Linked DNA regions of Homo sapiens: all the other regions are reported to be linked to region 1. The links are microRNA targets in miRTarBase. Many come from high-throughput screens and were not tested one by one. Region 1 holds a microRNA gene; each other region holds the end of a gene's coding sequence.
Evidence for each region. Region 1 holds the annotated microRNA hsa-miR-148a-5p (AAAGUUCUGAGACACUCCGACU, at 1,947-1,968, opposite strand). A microRNA usually pairs through its seed, bases 2 to 8, with sites in the 3' UTR of a target mRNA and lowers its output. Matches are read on the target gene's strand: a 7mer-m8 pairs with bases 2 to 8, a 7mer-A1 pairs with bases 2 to 7 and ends in A, and an 8mer does both.

Region 1 (4,244 bases):
TCCCCAGCGTTCCTTGTTCTTCCTTCCCTGACGTTTATCACCCTTCTGATTATTTTATATTTGTATTGTCTACCTCTTGCATGAGAAAGACCTCCAAGAGGGCAGGGTTCGGGGCCTATTTTGTTCACTGTTGCATTCGTAACGTCTAGAGTAACACCTGATGCTCGGGAGGTGAAAATACACTGATTGCTAAACGACTGAGGTCTATGAGACCATGCCAGGTTTACAGTAAGCACCCCAAGACTGCCGATTTTCCCAGTTCCTATTCCTGGCATCCTTAGCACCAGAGTAAACCACAGCCCTCCTGCTTGGTTAGTCCTTAACTCACTTGTGGTCACAAACAGGAGAAATGCAAATCACTTAAGCATAGAAGTCAAACCAGACTGAATCATGTCAGGGACTCCAAACCTTGCCTTTCTCTGGAGGTGAGAGATCCTGACCTAATTCCTTTGTATGGATGACTACTCTCCCAGTCAACCGCTCCACTCTTTACCTCCCATTCTCTTACAAAGTTGATTTAAGTTTTCTTAAAATTCAGTATATTCAGACTATCTTGTGGAGATGTACAGACATAAGAACTAGGAAAGAGAATCCTCTTCCTCAAGTAAGCATACCTTACATCTCAAATGAACACAAGACGTACTTGAGTTTGGATCACTTTATTTAACTGCACAGAAATAATTCAGCCATTTTTGGGTAAAGGATTGAGGAACAAAAGCAAAGCAGTCACTGATGGAAAAGTGGGAGAATGGATAATGGCCACACAAAAGAGAACACATGCTGCCTTAGGATCAATACACAGCATTTCTGTGAAAAGCAACTGGTAGGTCCTGCCATTAAGCTCTAACATCAAGCAGCTGAATACTTTCTCCCTCATTGAGCCTTCCTCCATTATCATCCCTCTCCCGATGATAAACCACTGGAATATACCTAAGTAAAAAAAATGGTGGCTTTCTTTACCAAGGGCTTCCCAGAGACACAAGCAACCCCCAGGTTTCTGAAGCATCCCATAAAATACATCAGAAGGCCCTTCCCTTACCTGTCAGCACCACGGGCACAGGAACCATTTCCTTTTTTCCCTACCACCCTGCGTCCTGTGCCTGGCCAAAAGCTCATAAAACCAAAACAGGGCAATGTCCATGGAACAGGACTACAATTTGGTGCCAGTCACTGACCCACTATAGAGAGCAGGCTATTGATAGAAACTCACCAACCCAAACCTCCATTCCACTAGGGATGAGAGAGCAGTCTCTCCACCTAAAGGATCTCCACAGCCCAAAAGCATAAATGTCCCCCTCCCCCAGTGGCTTTCAAAATGCTTTCTTGGAAAAAGTTCTTCCTTTCCATTAATAAAACTTACTTTAAAAAACAAAAGTGAACTGCATCTAAATCGGAAGCAGAATTGAGACTAGATCTCCAAACTCAATCCCTGCAGGCTGTCATTTATCCAGCAGGTCGCTTGAGTAAAAGGACCATTATCTGTGGCTTTTGTACAAATACATTTCCTTCTTTAAGGGTAGAGAGTTTAAATTCCTGCAAGGCACTGCACACTAACACACCCATTAATAAATCTGCAGCTCTCCTGGCTCAGTTTAAGTGAGGCCAGTCTTTCAGTACCTGTTAAGCAACCTTGAAAAGTCCAAAGCTTTATTTTTTTCTTCTTTAAACCAAAAAATTCTACAGTCAGGAGTCCACCAGGGTAAGATGAAGAGATTTGGGGGGATTTTGTTCCCATTTACAGGGTTTAACCCACCCGCTTCAAGGGAATTGGTCAAGTTCCTCGTGCTGCACTTGGACCCCCTCTGGCCTTGCCCCTCCCCCAAGGGAAAGGCGCAGCGACGTGGCCACCAGGGCCACTCGGCCTGGCGTCTGGAGCACTGGCGGCATCGGCGACCACAGCCTCTAGAGACAAAGTTCTGTAGTGCACTGACTTCTATCATACTCAGAGTCGGAGTGTCTCAGAACTTTGCCTCAAAAGACCAAACGTGCTGTCTTCCTCCAGAAGTTTCTTCCTGCAGGTGTGTTCCCCCACCCCCCAGCTAAGACAAAGAAGAATAACTCGTTAAAAGCAATTTAGTTCAGGATGCGACCGATAATGGAACGGGTCATTAATTATGGAAAGTTACTGCCGCAGTCAGCAGGAGCAAATGCCCAACAGAAATGGTGTTTTAACAGCCCGATTCGACAAATTCTGGTCGCAATGTCACAGCAAAGGGGCTGCAAGAATCGCACACTCTCCTTCCTTCCTACCCGTCCTCAGATTAGAACCCATTCCTGGTCGAACCCTCACCTCCCTCGGTAGTTATTTAAACTTTTGCCAGCAGCTAACTCACTCTAACTTGTGGCAACTTTTTACCTTCCCATCTGGAAAGCTGGGGGCGGGGGCGCTGCACGAGGACGAATATTCGGAGCTGAAAGAGTTAAACGGTGGGGAACAAATACAGGCCCGGGAAAAGCCCCTAAGATGGGACGACCCAAGAAAGACCCGCTTTGCGGGGCCTCCCCTGAGACCCCCTTCCCCAGCCATTCCCAGTACTCTATTCCCGGTCTTCCAGCCGCCCGCGCCCAGCCCCGGGAACTCGGGTCGAAGTCGTCCCATCCCCTCCGTTCCACCCACCCACTCTTTGGGATTCTCCCTGCCCCATTAGGCAGTGCTTCCCGCGGACCCCGTTCGCGCACAACCTTGCACACAGTCCCCAAGACTGCTCTTCTCCCCCTCCCGGCACCCCCTTTTCCCTGCAGCATAAGCGACCACTCTGTCCCCCATCCTAGCAGACCCCCTCCCCCCACATACCGCACCTGAACAGCTGTTGCGCGCGTGCAACAGGTCTGGAAAGTGCTTTCCCATCTTCCCCCAAACCCCTCGCCACCGTTCCATCCCCCGCCACCCCTAAGAGACAAGGCCGGAGGGGCAGTGGGCTGCGTCCCCCGGGCCGGGGTGCACGGGCGGCTGGCGGAGTGCGGGGCGCCCAGAGGCTCCCGGGGTTGGGGGCGGTGGTCGCGCTGGGCCGGGACACCTTCGCGAGTGGCCCCTCGTGCGCCCGCCGCAGGCTCCCCAGCCTGCCCCTCCAGCGCCGGCCGCCAGGCATTCCCGGGCCGGCTCCCCCCTCGCGCTCCGCTCCGCTCCCTTCCATCTTGACTTTTGCCGACGTGGAAATTTTGGGTTTGGAGACGACCTGCGCTCTTATTGGCTGCCGGCGGGCGGGGTCGGAGGTCACGGCTGCTCTCGCTATTCCGCGCCAAGGGGAGCCGCACAGCGGCTCGTGTCAAGTCAGCAGGTTCCCTCCGCCTCCCCCGGGGTCACGTGCGCCCCGGGCGGGCCCGGGAGACGCCTCCTTATGCAAATAGAGCGGCCGCGCGGGGCTGGGGGCGGGGGCGGGGTGGGCGGTGGCGCGTGGGGGCGGGGGCGGGGGCGCGGCCGGCGCTGGGAGGGCGGGGCGCTCCAGGTGGCCACCTGGCTCGACGTCCCGCCCCGCCCTTCTGCCCACCAGCCTCTGCCAGGCTGCCTGTTCCGCTTCCCGCGACACTCGGGCCGGGCGCTGTCCCCGGCCAGCCCCGCTGGGCCCAGGGAGCCCGCGTTTTGCAAGATGCCCCTGAATGCCCGCTTTCCCCGGAGCCCCCTCCTCCAAACCCAGCCGGAGCCCTGCCTGGGCCCGGTGTCTCCTGGCTGGGGAGGAGGCGGCGGCGAAGCTGCTGCAGGGCAGAGTGCGAAATGGAAACCTCGGGAGGACAGTTTCCTCCCCTGGCAGGGAGTTGAGAACTAAATGCGAGATTCCCGGTAAGGGAATTCTAGGACAAAGCAAAATCAAGAATTCATCAAGGTTAAAAGTCGTTTCTTTTAATAAACTGCCCACCACCCATCCCCAAATAAAAAGAGGCCAAAGAGCTAACTAAAAGTAGTAAAAATGCCAGTTCTGGATTTTTTTTTTTAACACGTCTACAAGGACTAACCGAAAGGCCGGTTTGCCTCCACCCTGACGTCTGCTGGGTACTGGGCACCCGAGACTGAACCAGGGGACACGTCCTCCTCTCCTCATCTAGATGGGGGTGTGACTCGGGGGAGCTCAGAATTCCCTGAGAAGAGGTCACGGGCACGTAGAATCAATTTTAACGTGGTTCCCCAAGCACGCCAAAGAAGATGCTGTTCTAGAAAGAAAGGGAAATTGATGAATGGCCACGTGACCAGGATGTCTTCCTTCCTTCCCTCTCCCCAAGGAAAAGAAAGTAACTGCATTGCAAAGGTA
Region 2 (4,244 bases), not on the chromosome of region 1:
GCGGTGGCTCATGCCTGTAATCACAGCACTTTGGGAGGCAGAGGCAGGAGGATTGCTTGAGGCCAGGAGTTCAAGACCAGCCTGGGCAACATAGCAAGACCCCTGTCTCTACAAAAAATAAATAAAAAATAAACTAGCCAGGCGTGGTGGCACGTGCCTGTAGTCCCAGCTACTTGGGAGGCTGAGGTGGGGAGGACCGCTTGAGCACAGAAAACAGTCAAGGCTGCAGTGAGCTATGAAGGCACCACTGCACTCCAGCCTGGGCAACAGAGTGAGACCCTGTCTTGAAAAAGGAAAGAAAAAGCTTCAGCAGCAATACAATGAAAATACACACACCTGCGTATGTTCTGCATGACTGGGATGAAGGAAGCCAGGCAAATGCTTACACTTAGCTCCCCTCACAGTAGCATATTCTGTGGCCACTTAGGCAGTAAACAAATGGCAGAGCTATTTTTTTTTTTTTTTTTTTTTTTTACAAATTATGAACTTACCATCATCCTCCCATTCTTTGAAATTTAGAAAGACATTGTATTTTTTGTTTAAGTGTAAGTTCTGATTTCTCAGGCTAAGGGATGAAGACTGGGAATTTATAGATCTGGGTCAAAAGTGCCCCACAGAGCTTCTCCAAACCCAGGCGGGCTCCTGGGGTGGCTCAGCAGTCTGTCTCCATCACTTTTTCCCAGAAATTTGTCTCATTCCCACTGTTTACCTGGCAAACCCCTGGATCCCCTCAGGCCCCACCTCATCACCTCTGCCTCTACAGGGTCCTTTCCATGACTCCCCAGAGTGCTGGTAAATCCTCGTGTGCCCCCACTGTTCCTACAGTTACATCCACAATGGCAGTTCTCAGCCTTAAAGGTCACCAGAATCACCCGCAAGGTCGTGAAACCCCAGCTTGCTGGGCCCACCCTGAGAGGTTCTAATTCAGTAAGCCTAGGGAGCACCCTAAGAATATGCACTTCTAACAAATAGTCTGCTGGTCCAGAGACATTTTTTTCTTTTCTTTTCTTTTAGACTAAGTCTCGCTCTGTTGTCCAGGCTGGAGTGCAGTGGCATGATCTCAGCTCACTGCAACCTCTGCCTCCTGGGTTCATGTGATTCTCCTGCTTCAGTCTCCCAAATAGCTGGGATTACAGGCATGCAATACCATGTCTAGCTTTTTTTTTTTTTTTTTTTTTTTGTATTTTTAGTAGAGACGGGGTTTTACCATGTTGACCAGGCTGGTCTTGAACTCCTGACCTCAAGTGATCTACCCCACTCAGCCTCCCAAAGTGCTGGGATTACAGGTGTGAGCCACGGCACCTGGCCTGAGAATCATTTTTCTTAATTACTTGATTCCATGCTTGTATCTTCCACTTGACTGTGAGTGTCTTAAGATCAGGAGGCATTTCTCACACATCTCATCCCCGCAGTCTAGCAGTGTTTAGCAGTCATTCAATCAATAAACAAATATTTATGGAATGCCTACTGTGTGCCAGGTACTGTTCTAGACACTGGGGTTCAGCAGTTAAAAAGTACACACACACACACACACACACCTCCCTGCCCTCATAGACTTCACCTTCTGAGGCTACACAGTAAACCATCAATGATTATTTATTGAAATCTGACCAGTTGTACAGAAGAAAAAAAATGGCATTATCATGCCTCTCTTAATAGTACTGTGGAAATGCCTATTTTTCCCTTTCTAATCACAGTTTTTCCCACTTGTATGCTTCTTCCTCTGATATCCCATCCCAACACCCAACAGGCAAATCCACAGACCTGGCAATATGCCAGGATTTTGGGTCTTACAAAATATTTACTGATTGATTTATAAAATGTTTGGTGTACATGACATGTTAGTTAGAAACAACAAATCCAAGAGCTGAAGCATGAGAGTTAATACAATAAAGCAATTTGGGAGGTAAGCAATCTCAGTGTTTTTATACTGATAAGAATATCTTAATTCACGGTTTTCAAACTAGCCTTAGTTACCTCTAAGTGTACATCACCTCCTCTCCTGTCCTATCCCATGCCCTCCATCTGTGTAGTGTTTATGGCAGTTCTTGGCTGCCTTGTATGATGACTCTGAACTCCCCATGGTCCTACACAGGCTGCAGTCACAGCCCTGGCATGGAGCCAATGTTTGGATGGTCGTGCGTGTAATTCTGAGAAACTGGTAGGAAGCCCAGTGAGGCCGTGTGATGTGGCGGAAAGGCAGGGAACAAAAGCAGAGGCAAACCTGACCACCGCAGATCCAGGAAGACATTTCTCATGAAGCACCCCAGGCCACCCCTCTCTAACCTAGGAGAGAACAGAAAATGTACCTTCATTTTTGGAATAATTTTCTGAATGTTTCTCAGCAAATAAAAATGTGAGAAATCACAGACAGCAATCTGGAATAGCTGAAATGACCATACTTTCAAGACTTTCAGTATTTATTCTTGAGGTTGGCAAATGTTTTTAAAAGGCTCTTCCTTTTGAAGATCAAAGCCATGAGACAACCTATGTTAATTATACAGAAGGGAAGACTATATGGGGGAGCAGCATTTATTAATGGAATTCTAGGAAAGCTAGTTTCAATATTCCAGACTCAAATATTTCTTCTCTGTTAACATCATAACCAAATTTGAGGTTCACTGTTAGTGATTTCAAGAGTCAGTGATATCAAGCAGCGACACTGTCTCAGAATAACACTCTCTTCCTATTGCTACCCAAAGTCTGTGATAAACAGGACCACAGAATTAACATTTACAAAATATACTTTAAAAATGGAGACAAAGTCCACTAACTTTATTTTTATGAGTCAATTCTAATTAAGTAAATTCTGATTACTAGAAAGCTTTGGGTATAAATGTGATCTTTTGGTTTGCTATACACTGACTCTTAAAAGATGACACTTATTTCCCTGGAGCAGTTTACTAACTGTCACTCTTGTAATTCAAAAGAATTAATATTTCTCAAAAGGTGTGTGATTCCCTGCAGAGGCATGACCTCTTGTGAAGCAGACCCTTTCAAATTGGCTAATATAAAGTCAAGATAAATAGAAATCAGTCCCTGTTGGTGATTACATTGGTTGAAGTTATTGCTCCCTCATTTCGTGTAATAAAATAACACACTACTACATTATGGAAAACCCACACATAAATCTAAAAGACAAATATTCTTATTAACACCATTTGTATCCTAGAAATAAATTAGCTTCCTTAAAAAATCTTTTCAATTATTCACAAAATCCATCCTTATTTTCTGAATGAACAAGGCTGAATTTTAGAAGTGCAATGAAAAGTTCTTGAGGTTCCCCTGCAGTGTAGACAGGCCTTCTTAGTGGATTCCGAGGCGCAGCTTCTTGTCCTGGTGCTGCTCTTCCTTCTGTGGGACAGGTCTCAACACACCATCTAGCATTGAGAATAACGCTAGGTCAGGACAGCTTCATTTCAAACCCATGGGCACTTGTTTCAGCCTTACATGTTGTAAGAGCAAAACAATGCTTAAGTTAAAGGAACTTTCACTTTATTTTATCTTCAAATTCTCAATTGTAGAGAATCCAATCTAGATAACTTACTCTCAGGCAATACAGAATCTGGCTTTTAAAAACTGGATTCACATTGGCCGGGTGCAATGGCTCACGTCTGTAATTTTAACACTTTTGGAGGCTGAGGAGGGAGGATAACTTGATCCCAAGAGTTCAAGACCAGCTTGGGCAGCATAGGGAGACCCCATCTCTACAAAAAAAATTTTTTTTTTTTAAACAGGTGTTGTGGCGCACACCTGTAATCCCAGCTACTCAGGAGCCTGAGGTGGGAGGACTGTTTGAGCCCAGAGAGGCCAAGTCTGCAGTGAGCCATGACTGTGCCACTGCATTCCAGCCTGGGTGACACAGCGAGACCCTGTCTCAAAAAAAAAAAAAACCAAAAACTGAATTCACTCAACAGTGTACGGCAAGTAATTCATAAAACTTTTTGTTTTATGTTTTTGGTGGGGGGACGTCCTATTACTAGACTGGAAGAAATAAAATGTACCTCCTAAGGGAGAAGGGGACTGTGTGTGGGGTAGGGAGAATCTGGGGACTGGAAGGAAGACGGACTTATCTGACTGGGCAGGCTGGGAAAAGAGTATGGCTTCAACCTCTTCCTGGCTTTTGTGTTTAATAGCTTTATTTGTACAATAAATGATACATGTTTAAAGTATGCAATAAACTAAACATAAAGTGTATAGCTTGATGAATTTTTTTAATTTACTTTTTGATTTGTAATATTTGT
Region 3 (4,244 bases), not on the chromosome of region 1:
TCAGTGCAGCTTCATAATCATTAAGCAGAATATTTATCTAAAAACCTCTAACACTTAATACCAGTTACTCAGTATCTTAACCAACATGAAAATACAAAACAACCTTTTATTTTCAAGTAGTCCCCTCAGTTCTCTTTTATGATTAAGGGAACATTTGAATCTTTTCTAAAGTTTTTCCTTTTGATCCAAATCACTTCCCCTCTACTTTTCTAATGGCTTTATAACCCTTCAACAGTAGGTGGTGCCACAAATGCACAAAAGTAAATTTCTGTAGACCAACAGAACTGTCACAGCTTTATTTTGTGACTCATTATATTACAACATAGAAATATGCATTTTAATACTTCATATAAAGTTATTGACATACAAAATTTTTTTTCTTTTTTCCTTTTAATGAAAATGATTTAACTTAGAAATCTGTTGTGAAACTTTTGTCTAGTTTTGCAATTCTCAGATATTCCAGTGCAAAAATAGATCCCATTACAGACAGCGTAAAGTGCTTGGAATGAGGGCCAATGATGAACAAAGAGCACAAAAACAGCTTCATCTTAGGGTATAAGAAGGGATAATAGCATACCTAAATCCTTATGGAAATAGAAACATTCTAAGGGGGATGCAACAATTTTGAAAAGAATTAGAGCAATATTTCTACAGTATTACATTATTACTAGTAGATAATAACAAGGGTACAAATTAATGTCTCAATATCAAAGTGGTTCAGTATTACATGACACATGGCTCTTTGGAAAATATTTTACCTGATATATACAACCACAAGAAGAAAACACAGACAAATGGCTTTAGTCAATGATTACTATACAGTGAATGAATGATGTGCAACATTTAATAGTCACAAAGCATTTGCTTTCAGTACAGATAATGAAATACAGTAGTGTGAGGTTTGGTTGTTTTTTAACAATGAATTGTGCTGGGCATTTATGTATAGAGGGCTTATTATTTTCTTCTGTATTTCTCATATTCACAGTTGTTAATAAGTTTTCTGAGGTGTCCCAAAGATGCAAAAGCAGAAATTTTTGAACACGTATTTTGAGAATTTCTGAAACTCACATAGGTACATTCCACAGGGAATATACAGAAATTTTGCTTGATTGAGTATAGAGTTGGTAAAAATTTCTACCACAATTAGGTTTACACAGGAAAATGTAAAAAATTACTATTTTAAAAGGTAACACAGTATTAATGAAGATGTATAACTATAGATTGTTTCTAGCTTCAGAAGAGGTCCTTTCAATCTGTATTAAAATGTTGTGTTTTCTTCAAAATAGTTCACAGTGCCTTTTGATTTTTTAAAATATGGCCTTGAAATCAGAGGAACCGAAGTAAGGAGTTGCTCATAGATTTACTATAATGAAGAATTAGAATACGATTTTAGTAAAATGAGGAAACCATAACTTTGATTTTGAAAAATATTAAATGAGGAGAAATTATTCTATAAATTCTGTATTTTTGAAGATACTGTAAAATGCAACGATGCCATATCACTAGTTATTGGAAATATGCCTTCATTACTTATATTTAAAATCAATATTGACTTTAACTTCTAAAACAATCATTTTTTTCTTTTTCAGCAGTGGGTTATATAATATTCTGTAAATTTAAAAAATATAGAAAGATTAATTTGAAATCTGAAGTCTTACACCTTTAGCGTTAATATTCAAATTCTGGAAAAAGTGGAAGAAGTTAGTAATGATATTGAAAGATCACTTGAACTTCCCCAAACAATAGTTCTCTCATATTTTTCTTTTCTCTCAAGACAGTTAACAGTAAGTATTAGTGAAACAGTATTTTTACAAATGTTTACTGACTAGAAAAATAAGACTGGGTTAGAAAACTCTGAAAAATGCTCCATATGGAAGTATTTGTTGTTTTTATATTTTTCTTGACTAGTGATTGAAGAGATGAAAAATTTGAGACTGTCAGATTTAATGGGGTATCCAATATCTGCAAAGCCAATTATTTGAAGGTACTAAATGCCATAAACACAAGTTGTGTTTTTCAGCAAGTTTTCAAGCTAGCTGTTTTCCCTGTTGAAGAATTCATTGTTTAGACTTGTGACCCTTATACTTTCTTGGCTTTTGCATTGTTGCAATTAAAAAAAAAAAAAAAAAGGCTGCCCAGTATTGTTACAGTGGGCTCCTACAACCACAAGACAACCTATATTTGTAAACCAGTGAGCTGAATAACATGGCACAGGAAGTGTACTGAGACTTAATATCTCTCTAGTCTTATACGTACGTACATACTCTTTCAGCTACAGCATACACTCAAAAAATATTTGATTGATGAAGTGAGATTAAGAGTATCCTAAATGATCTGAAAGAAACTCAAATATAATGTCATGAGATCCTGACCATCACATTGCTTTCTAGGCACTAGTCATGACTGATATGCAAACTTACATAAGAAAATAAAAATAGTGGGGCAGTGGCCATACTCCTCTATACCACAGGGTTCTACAAAGAGGCCATTCTAAGGATTCAGAAGTCACTGATAGAACTTAAAATTCCAAATAACATTAAAAAGTACAAACATTTTTGTCAAAATACAACTCCATCTTTTCATTTTCTAGATTAATTCAAAAAGCCAGAAATAATACACTTGTGTCAGATAAACATCTTGAGATGCAGTGTACCATGTTAGCAGACAGTCAGGACAAATGGGCACAGGCTTCCCTAGGTTTGAACGCACAATCTCTTTAATCCCATGCCCTGGCTTCAGCAGCTTGCAGCCCCAGCAGTTTGGCTGTTGATTCTTTGCCTCTTACCAGGATCTAAGTATATTTAAGAGTCTCATAAGGATGACCCTGTAGACCCATGGCTCGAAGCATAGGACAATATAACAATGGAACCAAGTTTCCCGTGCCTGGAGACACCCACATTTTTGTTGCATGTTACTGCCACCAGAACAGCTTATCAGAGGGAATCAAAGCAGGATGTTAGCCACGCATGGCACCATTCTGTCAACTGATATTCAATGTTGATAGACTCTGAGCAGAGCAGCTTTCACAAAAGTGAGCATGACACACCATGGTGCTTCAAACTTTCTGAAAAACTTGGCACTAATAACTCTGGCACACTCATTGCCAGCAATGGATGTGTCACCGGGAAACCAGTCTCCTGGGCATGGCATGGCTTAGTGAATGAGGATGTGCATTACCTTTTGATTTTGATCAATAATCGCTGGCCATGATTACTTGATGAATTATTGTTGCAACCCCAATGAGAATACACAGGAACAAAAAAAAAAAAAAAAGTGTGAGTTCAAACCCATATGTCCATTGGGTTCCATAATAGAGTTTCACATAGGTATAGGTAAAAAACTAAATTCAAGTCTTTCACTTGAGAGCCATACAAGACATAGGCTACAAAGGCACTGCCCCTGTAATGGAATTTTGTTTTCATTGCATTGAATTGCATTGCATTGAATAGTATCAGTACAGTATCCAGTTTACTTCTTCCCACATCAACTTCTGGCTCTTTTCTCCACAACACTTCACATGGTGCAAAGGAAAGTCTAGTTCCTCTTTACTTTCAGCCACCCCGTATGAACAGGATTCTTCATACATAGCTTTCTTTCACTTTCTCATCCTGTAGAAAAGATGTGAGAACTGCAACGTCCACTACTGTCTGGTTTTTGTGTAATGAGAGGTCTTTTAAGTGGTCATCATCACTTTGGTCCTTGGCAAAGTTCACAAATACCTGTTAAAAGATTAAGATGGACCTTTATAAATACCACTCAACTTGCTCATTCTTTATTCTAGTTCTATTTTTCCAGATGTTGAAATTAGGTCAAGTAGGAGCATACAGAATTACATAAATGGATTAACTAGAAAACTGTGTGTGAAGGAGGGAAGAATACTTGAAAAAAGCAATAACAACTTAAAAATAGACTTTTTTTCCCCCCTTGAAATGGGGTCTTGCTCTGTCCCCAGGCTGGAGTGCAGTGGCGAGACCTTGGCTCACTGTAACCTCCACCTCCTGGGTTCGAGCAATTCTCCTGCCTCAGCCTCGCAAGTAGCTGGGACTACAAGTGCGCACCACCATGCCCAGCTAATTTTTGTATTTTTAGTAGAGACGGGGTTTCACCCTGTTGGCCAGGATTATCTGGATCTCCTGACCTCATGATCTGCCTGCTCCTCAGCCTCCCAAAGTGCTGGGATTACAGGCATGAGCCACCACGCCCGGCCAAAAACTGACTTTCTATATCGCCCCCCACCCCTACAT

Region 2: the mRNA of CDADC1 is a reported target of hsa-miR-148a-5p. Seed matches in the 3' UTR shown: 7mer-m8 at 3,269-3,275.
Region 3: the mRNA of ABCA1 is a reported target of hsa-miR-148a-5p. The part of its 3' UTR that is shown has no 7-base or 8-base seed match.

Annotation. Positions count from the first base shown.
Region 1 is chr7:25,948,014-25,952,257 of GRCh38, forward strand. It overlaps MIR148A (microRNA 148a), which reads right to left and starts at 1,973; the gene lies at 1,906-1,973. The region is part of intron 6 of LOC105375199 (a long non-coding RNA gene); the gene reads right to left. RefSeq lists an enhancer at 14-83 and silencers at 2,927-3,066, 3,197-3,416, 3,537-3,746.
Region 2 is chr13:49,290,820-49,295,063 of GRCh38, reverse strand. CDADC1 (cytidine and dCMP deaminase domain containing 1) reads right to left here. Exons shown (of 10, transcript NM_030911.4): 10 at 1,579-3,380. The coding sequence ends at 3,307. Among named protein-coding and RNA genes, the nearest start is that of CDADC1, 45 kb to the right of the region's middle.
Region 3 is chr9:104,780,737-104,784,980 of GRCh38, forward strand. ABCA1 (ATP binding cassette subfamily A member 1) reads right to left here. Exons shown (of 50, transcript NM_005502.4): 50 at 270-3,719. The coding sequence ends at 3,579. It also overlaps a transcript of NIPSNAP3B not described here. Among named protein-coding and RNA genes, the nearest start is that of NIPSNAP3B, 19 kb to the left of the region's middle.